4 linked regions of the Homo sapiens genome follow. The protein of the gene in region 3 purifies or fractionates together with the protein of the main gene of each other region. This does not show direct contact. Each region holds a gene or a part of one and is shown on either strand. Other genes may lie near its edges. The genes, in order: GALNT12, ZNG1C, SERPING1 and SELE.

Evidence for each region.
Region 1: the proteins of SERPING1 (region 3) and GALNT12 purify together in Homo sapiens (affinity purification with mass spectrometry; one large-scale study listed by BioGRID and IntAct). This does not show direct contact.
Region 2: the proteins of SERPING1 (region 3) and ZNG1C purify together in Homo sapiens (affinity purification with mass spectrometry; 2 studies listed by BioGRID and IntAct, with this or other methods). This does not show direct contact.
Region 4: the proteins of SERPING1 (region 3) and SELE purify together in Homo sapiens (affinity purification with western blotting, with the first as the bait; one study listed by BioGRID). This does not show direct contact.

Annotation. Positions count from the first base shown.
Region 1 is NC_000009.12:98,835,128-98,838,696, forward strand, and holds part of GALNT12 (polypeptide N-acetylgalactosaminyltransferase 12), read left to right. Parts: intron 1-121; coding exon 122-239; intron 240-1,844; coding exon 1,845-2,021; intron 2,022-3,569. UniProt on the Homo sapiens protein: Catalyzes the initial reaction in O-linked oligosaccharide biosynthesis, the transfer of an N-acetyl-D-galactosamine residue to a serine or threonine residue on the protein receptor.
Region 2 is NC_000009.12:68,269,463-68,273,031, reverse strand, and holds part of ZNG1C (zinc-regulated GTPase metalloprotein activator 1C), read right to left. Parts: intron 1-3,569.
Region 3 is NC_000011.10:57,607,621-57,611,189, reverse strand, and holds part of SERPING1 (plasma protease C1 inhibitor precursor), read right to left. Parts: intron 1-3,569. UniProt on the Homo sapiens protein: Serine protease inhibitor, which acrs as a regulator of the classical complement pathway. Forms a proteolytically inactive stoichiometric complex with the C1r or C1s proteases. May also regulate blood coagulation, fibrinolysis and the generation of kinins.
Region 4 is NC_000001.11:169,724,063-169,727,631, reverse strand, and holds part of SELE (E-selectin precursor), read left to right. Parts: intron 1-106; coding exon 107-283; intron 284-825; coding exon 826-933; intron 934-1,703; coding exon 1,704-1,725; intron 1,726-1,830; coding exon 1,831-1,888; 3' UTR 1,889-1,903; intron 1,904-3,122; 3' UTR 3,123-3,569. UniProt on the Homo sapiens protein: Cell-surface glycoprotein having a role in immunoadhesion. Mediates in the adhesion of blood neutrophils in cytokine-activated endothelium through interaction with SELPLG/PSGL1. May have a role in capillary morphogenesis.

The sequences.
Region 1 (3,569 bases), on a different chromosome or scaffold from region 3:
GGCGGGATATGCTTAGAGATGACAGATGAACAGATGAAAGGGCTCGTGGTGGGAAGGTAGTTGGATAACTGTGATGGTTTTCTGCTGTCTACAGTGAAATAAGGATATCATACTTTTTTAGGTCTCCAACAATGGCTGGTGGGCTGTTTGCTGTGAGTAAGAAATATTTTGAATATCTGGGGTCTTATGATACAGGAATGGAAGTTTGGGGAGGAGAAAACCTCGAATTTTCCTTTAGGGTAAGTATTTCAGTCTTCTCTTTGGACATGTTCTTAACTGATTCTCTCTTTGGGAACGATGGGATTTGCTGTAAGAGCCTGGTGGACCCTGAAAGATGATGACACGCATATCCTATAAACATGCTTGCTTTCTTGTTTTAGCTTTTTAAAAAGTGTACTTTTTCTAGATTTGGGGCCAGCAAGGGCCTTGCGAGTCACATAGTTCTCTCTCACTCTATGGAGAGGAGGAAATGAAACCAGGAGAGAGGTGACTTGCTCAGGGTTAGGTTCCTCCTGATCCTGTCTTCTGGAGCCTTTACTTGATTAATTCCTTATGAAGTGGCCTCTTTATTTAGCACAGTGCCTTTCAAACTTTGACAGATGTAAGAATTTCTTTTTTTTTTTTTTGAGACGGAGTCTCGCTCTGTCGCCCAGGCTGGAGCGCAGTGGCACGATCTCAGCTCACTGCAACCTCCGCCTCCTGTGTTGAAGTGATTCTTCTGCCTCAGCCTCCCGAGTAGCTGGGATTATGGGCATGTGCCATCATGCCCGGCTAATTTTTGTATTTTTAGTATAGACGAGGTTTCACCATGTCATCCAGGCTGATCTCAAACTCCTGACCTCAGGTGATCCACCCGCCTTGGCCTCCCAAAGTGCTGGGATTATAGGTGTGAGCCACTGCACCCAGCCAACACATGTAAGAATTGCTGGGTAAACTTGTTAGAAAGACAGATTCACAAGCACAATCTAGAATTCTAGCTAGATTTGATAGCTTTAGGGTGGGACCAAGATTCTGCTTTTTGTAACAAGCCTTCCTACTGATGCTACTCTACATGGCCCGTGAAAACCGTATTGGAAAACTCCTAGCATTTCAGTAGATTTTCCAGTTAATGAAGTCTTACATTTTAAGCATCAAAACTTTGTGTAAATGTTGGTGCTTTTCAGTGGAAAATTAAGATTTTTAATAATATTTTATATGGTGTTCTGCCCTCATAAAAACTGAATAAACAAGAATTTGGCCTTCTACCGAGGACTCACGCCCTCTGTAATAAGTACCAGATGCTGTGCTTGGTTGTCCCATCTTTGGGAAAATGAGATATTCAAGGCTGTCAGTCCCAGTGTGAGATGGGCTCAGATGCCTTCGCCTGTTGAGTCTTTGGGTGTGCTTTTAATGGTCTCTCTGCCTCTTCCTTAGGTGTCAGGCTGCTCTACCTGTTTCTAGACGCTCTTCCTTTCCCCCTTCCAAACCTCTTTTCTTCCTTGCTGCTTTCCTATCTTCTGTGGCTAGGAGATCAGGTAATCAAGCCTGTGTTTTCTGTAATGAGTAAGTGGGTTGCCAGCGAGGTCTCTGTGGATGCTCCTGTGAGTCAAGTGCATGAGCTTTAGTGCATGGACTTTGGGGTCTTGGTTCCCACAGCTTATATGTTTTGGGGGCTGCTTTCTTGCTCTTTACCCACATTCTGTGTCATGAGTGTGCCGGGTAGGTGGCCTCCTGCCCGATGGAGGCTGAGCATCTTGGCAGTGTCCATCATGCCTTGCGTGTGCCTGGCCTCTTTGCTGCAGATACTATGGACCCGCAGCTCATCCCCTGCTCACCACCTGGCCTCTCCTTTTCTCTGTGTGCAGATCTGGCAGTGTGGTGGGGTTCTGGAAACACACCCATGTTCCCATGTTGGCCATGTTTTCCCCAAGCAAGCTCCCTACTCCCGCAACAAGGCTCTGGCCAACAGTGTTCGTGCAGCTGAAGTATGGATGGATGAATTTAAAGAGCTCTACTACCATCGCAACCCCCGTGCCCGCTTGGTGAGTTCCTCGGCCCACCTGCACTCCATCTGGCTTCATCTGAACAACAGCAGCTAATCGTGGCTTCCCCAACATAGTCGATCTGGTTCCAGAAATAGAGAATAAATTGGGTGCTCAGATACGAGTAAGGGGAGAATTTATTCCTCCATTTATAATAATTATATGCAGTCAAATCTTCTTATTTACAGCTGTTATAGTGCATAAAGCCACCACAAATGCTGAATTCATGAAAACAGAGCCATTGTTCTTAGGGGAAATACAGGGTTAGGTTCCTGCCAGACTTGGGGCACAGTTTTGTCAGCAGATCAATACAGAACCTTGTTTTCTATGTGTTTCTGTTCAAAGACACCTGTTTAACATATATCGTTGCATCATTAACATTGCACTCATGGCTAACAGCACGGTAACTCATGCCAGAATGAAGCTTACCTAGCACGTGTTATTTTCTCTTCATCACAACCTTCTTGCATTTAGGAACACTAGGTAGCACTTCAGCACTACGACTGGGGGACATTCTAGAATAGCTGGTGCAGTCACCAATACAAAGCAGGAAAAAATGTGGTGCCCAACAGATGGTGAAAAGAACACTGGTTTACAGGATGAGAGCTGAAACAAGAAGGCGGTGTGTGCCCTTGTTATATATCACCTGGAAATGGGAGTTAAGTGTTGGGCAACTCAAATTTTTTGTCCATGAATGTGTGTGAAAATTAGAAAACACCACAAGTATTGATTTGGAGGTTACAAATCAATTTTATTATAGCATGTAGGGAAATTCAGATACAGAACCAGTAAATAATGAGGATGGACTGTACCAACATAGATAGTTGGGGATACCTGGTGTCACAGGCCAGGCATTGTCCATGTGTTTTGGTTTTCCTCTTTGTAGCCAGTAGGGTGAGTCCACAAACACAGGGTACAAGTTAAGGCACAGTTCTTTACCTTAAAGCTATTGCTCAGGGACACATCCGCCTTATTAGTTAGGGGTCTGTTACCTCCCTCTAGAGCCTTCTTGTTAGCACCCTGGAAGCTTCCTTTTCTAAAACAGGGAGTCTGTTCTGCTTCCATTTCCAGATGGAAGGACTACTGGAGAGTGGCCCAGGCCCCCGCTGCTACTCTTTCTCACCATATGTCATGGTCATGGAAACCCCCCCACCGCCAGCCTAACAGATGTCTATCTTCCTCCCCACTCAGAGGCCTTGCTGGGCCCATCTCTCTGACCAATGGTGAAGGTGTGCCTGCAGTCACTGAAGTCTCAGCTCAGTTGGCTTGCTCCCCTGGGTCTCAGCCACACACTACAGGGACACTGGCCCATCCACCCACTGCACTGAGTCTGTCGGAGGCTGAGGTTCAGCCCAGACTGTGTCCTTCCTCATAGCGATTTATCTCAGGGACTTGTTTTCTGGTCCGGATCCTTGCTCTGCCTCTACCTCCGGGACCATTGTGGATGAGGGATCTGCCTCTTCTTTCCCAGGTCTTGGGCTTCAGATGAAACACAGTCCACTGCCTCTGCCCCAGCCAGCTCTGCATGCTCCATGGCAGGGTGCCTGC
Region 2 (3,569 bases), on a different chromosome or scaffold from region 3:
GGGGACAGAGTGAGATTCTGTCTCAAACCAGAGTGAGATTCTGTCTCAAAAAGATAAAAATAAATAAAAATAAAAATAAAAATAAACCAAATGAATGAAGTTTCCCTCCAAGTTTGTCATCTTCATCTTAGGAAATAGCTTAAAGTTTAATAAAGTTTACACATGCCAATTTTGTGAATATCAAATTCAACAGTTTGGAAACACAAGCTTCTAAATAAACTGTTTCACTGTGACAGTGTCCTTGAGAATACATGCCATCCAGAGGTAATTCTGCTTTATACTCAGATTCTTTCCATACTTCCAAAAAAGGATCAATATTAGACCTGTATAACAAATTACACTCTTTTACAGAAAATAATAAAATATCCAAGTCTCTCACCAAATTTTCAAAAAAGAGGAAAAGTGTAAGCTTCCAGATGAAAGTTTCTATAGCTTTCCCCAAATTTAGTACCACCATGAAAAAGAAATTCTTCACTCATTCAAGGCATACGACTAGAAAACTAATTTCCATGGCATCAAATTAATTTCCTCCTTTGGAGATAAAACCATGAGATCTTTTCCAAAGCATTAAAATCGCCAAGAAAAAAAAAAAAAAGAAAAAAAAGACCATTACCAGCATTTTAAAACTGAGTAAGAGAATGAAGTAAACAAAAAAGGGAAAGAAAAAGCTTCAAAAGTTCATTTTTCTCCTAATTTCTTGAACTCTCTATTCCAGAAGTACCTAATGTTTTTCTTAAAAGAGAGGCTTTCAATTTTTCCCTATGTCTAAAGGCTGCTTTAAGTAGCTTAAGACCAAGGACAGGAGAGTGAAAACGAAGAGGGTTTTGGCTCTCCTCGGTGGGGGTGGAATTGCAGCTACTGCTTAGGGATATTTTCCAGTGGTCAGCTCTTCAAACTCCAGTGAGTCTCATAAACAGGGTGCACCAGCCAATCCAAGTATCCAGTATCTACAATGCAAACTGTAGATACTATCCAAATTGACAGTAGATAGCTCAGTAAATAGCTGAGCAAACTGCAATGATAGCTCAGTCTTGAACTCTGGAAATAAATTTCCAAAAGCCTTCCCCAGTGGCACTTCAAACTCAAAAACGTTTACAAAACCAATCACATTTTCCAAACCTGCTTCCACCACTACCCGACCTGTTGCTCCTCCTTCCTGTATTTCCTATACCTCGGAGATTAGTCTCACATTGAATCTACCTCCCAAGAGTCATGTTGCTTTTAAAATCCTTCACTAACTCCTTGCTCCCTACAGAAGAAAATCCAAACTATGTATCATGGCATTCAAGACCCTTTGTGGTAAGTTCTCTATCTCTTCAGTCATACCACTTTTTCTGTGCTACATAATACCAAGTTTTCTAGCCATTCTAAAATATTCAAAGGTCCCTGGAATACAAAATCTTCCTTATACCTGGAAAGTTATCCCTACCCTACTCCATCTGTAAAAACCTTATTCATTCTTTAAGACTCAGGTCAATGACTGCCTTCTCGGTCAATATTTTCCTGACTCTTTTTCAAGAAAAGTTGAGCAATCATTCCCTCTATTTTCCTATTATTATAGAACTCTGTGCTTTTAAAATTCTTGTATTAATATTAATATCTATTATGTTGCCTTTTTGTTTGTTTGCTTCTGTTTCCCCCCAATGACTGATCTCCTTAAAGGCAGAGTTTTTGCCTTATCCATTGCTTATATAGTCCTTAAAATGCTATGAAATGCATAGCAGGCAGTTTGTCAAATTAATTTAACTTATTATTGACCAGCTGTGTTTTGGTTTTCCTCTGTTCAGTCCACTTACATTTCTAAAAATTAAGAAAAAGTCTAGAGAAGATTAAAATGACACATCTTCTAACCTGTTACTCCTACTTCTGAAATCTATGTGGTTCACTAGTACTTCCATTTGCTACTAAATCAACTTAAGTCTTACCACTAAGACGATGCTACACACTATTCCTTTTCCTTACTCTTAACTACTCAAGGTGAGCCTTTTTCTACACATGCTTATAGCAGTTTATTGTCAGTACTTGTCAGCTACAAAATGGTAAAAAAATTTTAAAAAACAAAAAATAAAACAAAACTTCTATAAGAGTGACTTTGACTATTTTGTTAACCATATCTCCGGGTTTTTTGTTTGTTTGTTTTTTTTTTTTTGAGACAGAGTCTCGCTCTGTCACCCAGGCTGGAGTGCAGTGGTGCGATCTCAGCTCACTGCAAGCTCCGCCTCCCGGGTTCACGCCATTCTCCTGCCTCAGTCTCCTGAGTAGCTGGGACTACAGGCGCCCACCACCAGCCTCAGCTAATTTTTTGTATTTTTAGTAGAGATGGGGTTTCACAGTGTTAGCCAGGATGGTCTCCATCTCCTGACCTCGTGATCCGCCCACCTTGGCCTCCCAAAGTGCTGGGATTACAGGCGTGAGCCACCGTGCCCAGCCCAAATCTCCAGTTTCTAAACTGGTAAGCTCAAGTTGCTATGCCTCAAGGAATTTGAGAGAATATTTAATATAAGATTCAGGACCCAATAGTAAGAATTCTACTCAGGACATCTGATCTTCATTGAAAAGGATTCTAATCCAACTTCAGTCCTCATAGCAAGGAAGTACTATTTCAGAAAGTCCCTAGATTCTCAGATGCATTGGCAAGCACCATACACTGAAGAATTCACAGAAGATTTTAGTCACTTGCTCACTCATCCACTTGAAGTAAGAAAAATCAATCACTGCATGTTTATTGTTCTATAATAAAGCAAATGTTAGAAATAAAAGTTAGAAATGTCAAACACACTAAATTGTTACATAATAAACTAATCAAGACACAACTTTTATTCAGGACATGGATATTTCTGAAATGAAAATAAAAGAAGAGAATTGACTTAAAATGTTTATAAATACGAATATTATGACAGAACCAAAGCTATTTATGAGCATTATTTTTAAAAGCTTGTTTAAGTATCATGCACTTGTCTGTGTGACATTTTGTAAAGCGGAGAAAAATTAAGGAGAAAGGAATTGTAGAACACTAACAGGAAGAGGACAGATACTGAGGAATGGCTCATGGTATAAGTGAGATTATCAGAGACTCTCTACAATGGAATTTGAAACGCAGGGAGCACATTTGGTGTATGGTTGTAGAGGACTTACACTAAGGGCATTCTTCTGCTACCTCTGCCAGCAGATGAGTGGCTCCTGAGAATGCATACCAAATTAATTCCCCAGCTGTTCACATGCATATAAGCAGCTGCTGCTGTTACTGCCTAATACTTATGGCAGTCTGTCAGCACCTCTAATCTCTGCCATAGCAGACAAGCCACTCACCTAAGGCCTCTGCTGTACTTCCAAAGAAAGAATTTCTCAAGTAGAGACTGAGTGGAACTAGACTGCCAGCTGTGAGCCTCAGAGCTCCTGGCTGCCTGTTGCTGAGTCTATCAGCTGCTGAGCCTTTCTCACCAAAAAAAAAAAAAAAAAAAAAAAAAAAAAAAAAAAAAAAATGAGCTTAATAAAATAACCCTGCACAGAAATTTTCTGAAATTAAGATAACATTCAATGGAAAACAGAATTTAATCTACAGAAATACA
Region 3 (3,569 bases):
GGAGGCCGAGGTGGGCGGATCACGAGGTCAAGAGATTGAGACCATCCTGGCCACCATGATGAAACCCCACCTCTACTAAAAATACAAAAATTAGCTGGGTGGTGGCACGTGCCTGTAATCCCAGCTACTCAGGAGGCTGAGGCAGGAGAATTGCTTGAACCCGGGAGGTGGAGGCTGCAGTGAGCCGAGATCATGCCACTGCACTCCAGCCTGGTGACAGAGCGAGACTCCATCTCAAAAAGAGAAAAAAAAAAGAAGAAGGACTTTCAACTGGTGACCAGACAAAAGTATGTAAGAAGTGCAGGGCCCCTGGGTTTAATACAGGGGTTGTCAACTCGGAGTGAATTTGCCTCTCAGTGGACATTTGGTAATGTCTGGAGACATTTTGGTTGTCATAGCTGGCAGGGGGCAAGGAGGATGTGCACACAGTGCTACTGGCTTCTAGTGAGTAGAAGCTAAGGAAGATGCTAAATTCTACAATGCACAGGACAAAGAATTATCTGACCCAATATGTCAATAGTGCCAAGGCTGAGAAACCCTAGTCTAATAGGATATGAGACTGTCATTAAATGGTATTATGATTGAGGCTGAAGGAACAAAAAGAATCTAGAAGAATGCAGAATTCAACTGGGCAATAAAGAAATTAACTGAAAGCAATCAATTGTCGGAACCTGAATAGCCCAGAAGAAGTAGATAGTAAGCCAATTTCGACTGAAAAGAGTGGACATGGGGTCCCTGTTGATGTAGCACTCAAGTTGGATATACTCATTTGAGTAGCATGTGCCCTTCAAGTCCTATGTATGAACCTTGAATCTCTGAAGAAAAATTTACCATGCTGTGGTCTTGAATTTTCAAGCCAGTAACCTCGGTGTACCTGAGCCGGTAAATCTCACCCCCTTCCTTGGGTAAATATCCTTAAGTGCCAGGAAGATTTAGAATTTAGTATAAGAATGACAAAAGAAACCAACTTCATCATGTTAAAACCAGGTGTTAAGTTCAGGGTAACCTGTATGTTTGTTATTTAAAATAGTGATTGTAATTTTTAAGAGACTCTGACATGCTAGTTTTATGCTTTTAAGCAAAGTTGTAGGATAATTTCATTAAATGTGAGAATGATATTGGAATGTTGGCTAGAAGTTAATTCACCCTTCAAATTTAATTTTCAGTTTACAAGTGAGCTTTAGGTGTTAGGATGATATGGCCAAGCACAGTCGTAATTACGACCTGTCAGGTATTAGATGTGTTTAAAAAGAAAATCAGCTGGGTGAGGTGGCTCATGCCTGGAATCTCAGCTACTTAAGAGGCTAGGGTGGGAGGACTGCTTCATCCCAAGGAGCTTGAGGTTACAGTAAGTGAGGATTGTGTCACTGTACTCCAGACTGGGTGATAGAGTAAGACCCTGTCTGGGAAAACTACATAAATAAATAAAAGAAAAAAGAAAATCGAGCATATTAAATTTTTAAAGGGAGCTTAAAATGCTTATGGGAATACTAATTATGTTTGTAGATAGAAAAAATGGTTTAAAGGAGTTTAATCTGTTCAATATGGCAATTAATTCAAGAACAAATGAGAGTGTTTTTATATAAAAATCACCCTATTTTTTTTTTTCTGAGACAAGGTCTCACTCTGTCGCTCAGGCTGGAATGCAGTGGCATGATCTCGGCTCACTGCAACCTTCGCCTCCCGGGTTCAAGCGATTCTTCTGTCCCAGCCTCACAAGTATCTGGGATTACAGGCGTGCACCATCACACCCGGCTTATTTTTTGTATTTTTAATGGAGATGGGGTTTCACAATGTTGGCCAAGCTGGTCTCGAACTCCTGACCTCAGGTGATTCACCTGCCTCGGCCTCCCAAAGTGCTGGGATTACAGGCGTGAGCCACTGTACCCAGCCTATTCTTTTTTTGTGTTTTGAGACAGAGTCTTGCTGTGTTGCCCAGGTTGGAGTGCAGTGGCGCGATTTTGGCTCACTGTAACCTCTGCCTCCCAGGTTCAAGTGATTCTGTGCCTTAGCATCCTGAGTAGCTGGGATTACAGACATGTGCCACCATGCCTGGCTAATTTTTGTATTTTTAGTAGAGACAGAATTCCACCATGTTGGCCAGGCTGGTCTCAAACTCTTAGCTTCAAGTGATCCACCTGCCTCAGCCTCCTAAAGTGCTGGGATTATAGGCATGAGCCACTGCGCCCAGCCAAATCACCCTACTCTTAATGTAGCAAGTTCAGCTTAAAATTAAAAGGCATAAGTAAAATTTTAATTTTGCATTTGTTAGTACATTAAATTAATTATCTGTTTAAAACCTAAGGAACTCTAAATAGTGGCTTTTGTGCACAAAACTACTCCTCCTCCTTTGGCTTAAAAAAAAAAAAAAAACTCAGGCTGGGTGCAGTGGCTCACGCCTGTAATGCCAGCACTTTAGGAGGCCGAAGACGGACGAGCACTTGAGGTCAGGAGTTCATGACCAGCCTGGCCAACATGGTGAAACCCCATCTCTACTAAAAATACAAAAATTAGCTGGGAGTGGTGGCAGGCACCTATAATCCCAGCTACTAGGGAGGCTAAGGCAGGAGAATCGCTTGAACCTGGGAGGCAGAGGTTACAGAGAGCTGGGATTGTGCCACTGCACTCCGGCCTGGGCAACAGAATGAGACTTTATCTCAAAAGAAAAACAAACAAACAAACAAAACTCATATTGGCTTGGGGAGATAGAAATTACTCTTCATATTATACCTGCTTTGTATTTGAATATTTATTATTGATATTATATGTCCAGAATGCTCACCTTAACCTATCACCTCACCTCAATGGTTTCAACAGTCTACTCCCAAGGGATTTTTACAATGATTTTTGGTTTAGAGTTTTGTGTGAAACTTTAAAAACATTTTTAGAGAGGAAATACTTGTTCTTATAATTCGAATAGTTACATTTAAACCTAACTTGTTAAGTTCTTAATTCCTACTTTCCACCTAACATCTATGGCTTTGATTAAATAGCCATTCCAATTGATTTGAAAAAAATCTCATATTTATACCTCCCCCAACGTATCTTGAATTTGAACAATGCTCTGGACCTGTCACATATATTCACTCTTCTGTGCCTTATACAGGCTGTCCTGGTTCTGCTAAATGAGTCATGAATGGTCAAATACATTAGATAGGGATGGATAGATGGGTGGATAAGTCCATGAGTGGATAAATAACTGAGCAAAGAATGGTCAAAAATAACCTCCTCAGCTGGGCGCTGTGGCTCATGCCTGTAATCCCAGCCCTTTGGGAGGCTGAGGGTGTGGATCACTTGAGGTCAGGAGTTCGAGACCAGCTTGGCTAACATGGTGAAACCCCGTCTCTACTAAAAATACAAAAATTAGCCAGGTGTGGTGGCGGGCTCCTGTAGTCCCAGCTACTTGGGAGGCTGAGGCAGGAGAACTGCTTGAACTCGGGAGGCAGAGATTGCAGTGAGCTGAGATCATGTCAATGCACTGCAGCTTGAGTGACAGAGTGAGACCCTGTCTCGAAAAAAACCCTCCTCTATGAAGTCTTCCAGCCACTTTTACTGAGTAGCTCTCTTTG
Region 4 (3,569 bases), on a different chromosome or scaffold from region 3:
ACTAAGTAGCGCTTACACTTTACATTCATTGTTGACTTTTAAGCAAGTTTTGGAAGTTTTCCAGTAGATTTTTCTGAAACTCTGCCTGTGTACCTAACATTTGCAGTGGTAAAATGTTCAAGCCTGGCAGTTCCGGGAAAGATCAACATGAGCTGCAGTGGGGAGCCCGTGTTTGGCACTGTGTGCAAGTTCGCCTGTCCTGAAGGATGGACGCTCAATGGCTCTGCAGCTCGGACATGTGGAGCCACAGGACACTGGTCTGGCCTGCTACCTACCTGTGAAGGTGATGCATTGATTGATGGTGGTTGTCTGGTGATTAAAAAGAAAAAGGGGGAGCTATCTTGTTACAGTAATCAACTATTCATTATATCCAAACCAGAAAGTTCGCCCAGGTTGACAAGTTGTGAATATTAAGTTGTATGGGGATAGAGAAAAAACAGAAGTTGCATGTTGATGGAAAGGGTAGAATTCTGACAACTGGAAAAAGGAGACAGAGAGAGGAGAGGAGAAAGGGGAAATGGAAAACAAGAGGGAGTGAGAGCAAGAGAGCAAGCAAGTGCAGTGTTTATTAACCAAGGTGTGGTGTGGTATTGTGAACGAGCTTGGCAAGTTAGAGTTCTGCCTGCCAATGGTGGAAATAGCTTCAAAGGTGGCTTGGAGCAGATCTCAAAGGCCTGTAATGCCACATCTCTGCTTCTTGTATTAAACTAGATAGCTCTTCTGCTCCTAGTAATGAATGTACAGAAAAAAGGCCAAAGGGACAGGACGGAGAGACTTTAACATCAATTCTTCCTCATGACCTTTCTTCGTCTCTTACTTCCTTAGCTCCCACTGAGTCCAACATTCCCTTGGTAGCTGGACTTTCTGCTGCTGGACTCTCCCTCCTGACATTAGCACCATTTCTCCTCTGGCTTCGGAAATGCTTACGGAAAGGTGAGGAAGTTTATGAATGTACTTCAAAAATGTTTTTGAAAATACATTTCTTTCTCATTGATAAGTCATGGTCTTGCTTACTGATTTAAACAATAATTAGAATCTGGATAAAATGCAGTATAATTAAGCAGAAGTATTAAGAAAAGAGTTAGTAGTACAACTCAGTGTGGGAAGTGTTTCAGGAAATAAAAATGTTAGTCGTGCCTAATATTGTACAACTCCAGGGGGTGCTATTCATGTTGAATTATATGATGCCTCCCGGAATTGTGCAATGGAACTGCCATGATGAGCACTCTAAGGAAAATGGATAAAATTCTTCCTAAGGAGATTTATTTGGAGTACAGGCTTAAATTTGAGAGTCTCTCATAAGGAATATGGAAGCACATCTGACTACACTCATGGTTTGTTTGGCTTACATGTTTAAGAGTACTTAAAACATTTTTGAGTTAAGTTCTGACGTTTACAAAATAGGAAATCTCACATTTAAATTAAGACTTTGGACTTCTCATGAAAAATTGGGAGCTGAATTGGGCAAGATGACCCCGTAGCTATTTGCTGGCATTAGGAAGCTGCTATGCCCTTTGGATGGCTGTGCACTTTGCATTTTACCCTAGATGCCACAGAGCCATGCTTGTGCTCTGATTATTACAGAGGCCCTGAAGCATCGAGTTTGCAACACTTGATGAATTAAGTCATATTGTATCTGGATTTAATATATCCTTAAAAGTCATTTAGTCTGAATTAATGGTTGTTTGTCTTTTCTTTTGCAGCAAAGAAATTTGTTCCTGCCAGGTAAGTTGCATTCTTATACAAAGCATGCCATTGAACATTCCACATATTTTTCTCTCTTCATGTTGGAAGACAGTGCTTTACCTAGTGTTCTCATGTATTCCACAGCAGCTGCCAAAGCCTTGAATCAGATGGAAGCTACCAAAAGCCTTCTTACATCCTTTAAGTTCAAAAGAATCAGGTAAGACTTGTAAATCACAAATGGTTATGAGAGAGGTATCTTCTCTACATGCTCTGTTTCTCCTTGAACCCTCCAAACTTGCCAATATCTTAGGGAGGGAGCAGGGGAGAAATCATCACCTGGGTATTGTTCTGGAAAGTTGCTTTATTTTTTGTAGAAGGAGAGGAAAGAAACGGATCTAGCTTTATTGTGTAATTTCATTTATGATAGATAATAATAATGAAGATAGCTGACCCTTACATTGCACTTATTATATTCTGGGAATTTTTCTAAGCTAGGAACTCTGAGATAGGGGCTGGTACTATATTTCTTATCTTTTCTTTTTACTTTTTTTTTTTTTAATTTTGAGATGGAGTCTCATTCTGTTGCCTAGACTGGAGTGCAGTGGCATGATCTTGGCTCACTGCAACCTCCACCTCCTGCGTTCAAGCAATTCTCCTGCCTCAGCCTCCTGAGTAGCTGGGATTACAGGTGCCTGCCACCACACCCAGCTAATTTTTGTATTTTTAGTAGAGATTTTGTATTTTTTCGTCATGTTGGCCAGGCTGATCTTGAACTCCTGATCCACCCGCCTTGGCCTCTCAAAGTGCTGGGATTACAGGCGTGAGCCACTGGGCCTGGCCTGTTACTTTATTTCTTATCACACAGATGAAGAAAATGAGACAGAGAAGTTAAGTAAATTGTCTGAAATCTCAAAGCTAGTAAGTGGTGTAGCCAGGATTCAAACTCTGGCAGTCTGGTTCTAAAATTTGTGTTCTTAACTACTCCGACCTGCTTTGAGAGAATTTGGAAAGGTCAAGTCCCTCTGAATACTTTTTAAAAAATTAAAATAACTTTTTTTGTGTGTGCGGTTTTAAGTTTACAGAAAAATTGAGCAGAAAGCACAAAGAGTTCCAACATATCTCCCCACCACCCCTTCAATTCCCCCTGTTATTAACATCTTATATTAGTGTTACAACTGATGGGCCAATATTGATACATTATTATTCATTAATGTCCACAGGCTACATTAGAATTCACTCTGTGCTGTGTTGTATATTCTGTAGGTTTTGACAGAGGTATAATATGTAGACATCATCACTGTCCTAACTGAATAGAATTCGATGTTCCTACATGGTCTATCCTAGTGAGAGTGTCTGTGTTAGAAGGTACATTTTGTTGTCATGATCAGTATGCAGAATATTAAGTGTTCTGATGACATGCATGTTTATATTTACAGAAACAGGTGCATCTGGGGAACTAGAGGGATACACTGAAGTTAACAGAGACAGATAACTCTCCTCGGGTCTCTGGCCCTTCTTGCCTACTATGCCAGATGCCTTTATGGCTGAAACCGCAACACCCATCACCACTTCAATAGATCAAAGTCCAGCAGGCAAGGACGGCCTTCAACTGAAAAGACTCAGTGTTCCCTTTCCTACTCTCAGGATCAAGAAAGTGTTGGCTAATGAAGGGAAAGGATATTTTCTTCCAAGCAAAGGTGAAGAGACCAAGACTCTGAAATCTCAGAATTCCTTTTCTAACTCTCCCTTGCTCGCTGTAAAATCTTGGCACAGAAACACAATATTTTGTGGCTTTCTTTCTTTTGCCCTTCACAGTGTTTCGACAGCTGATTACACAGTTGCTGTCATAAGAATGAATAATAATTATCCAGAGTTTAGAGGAA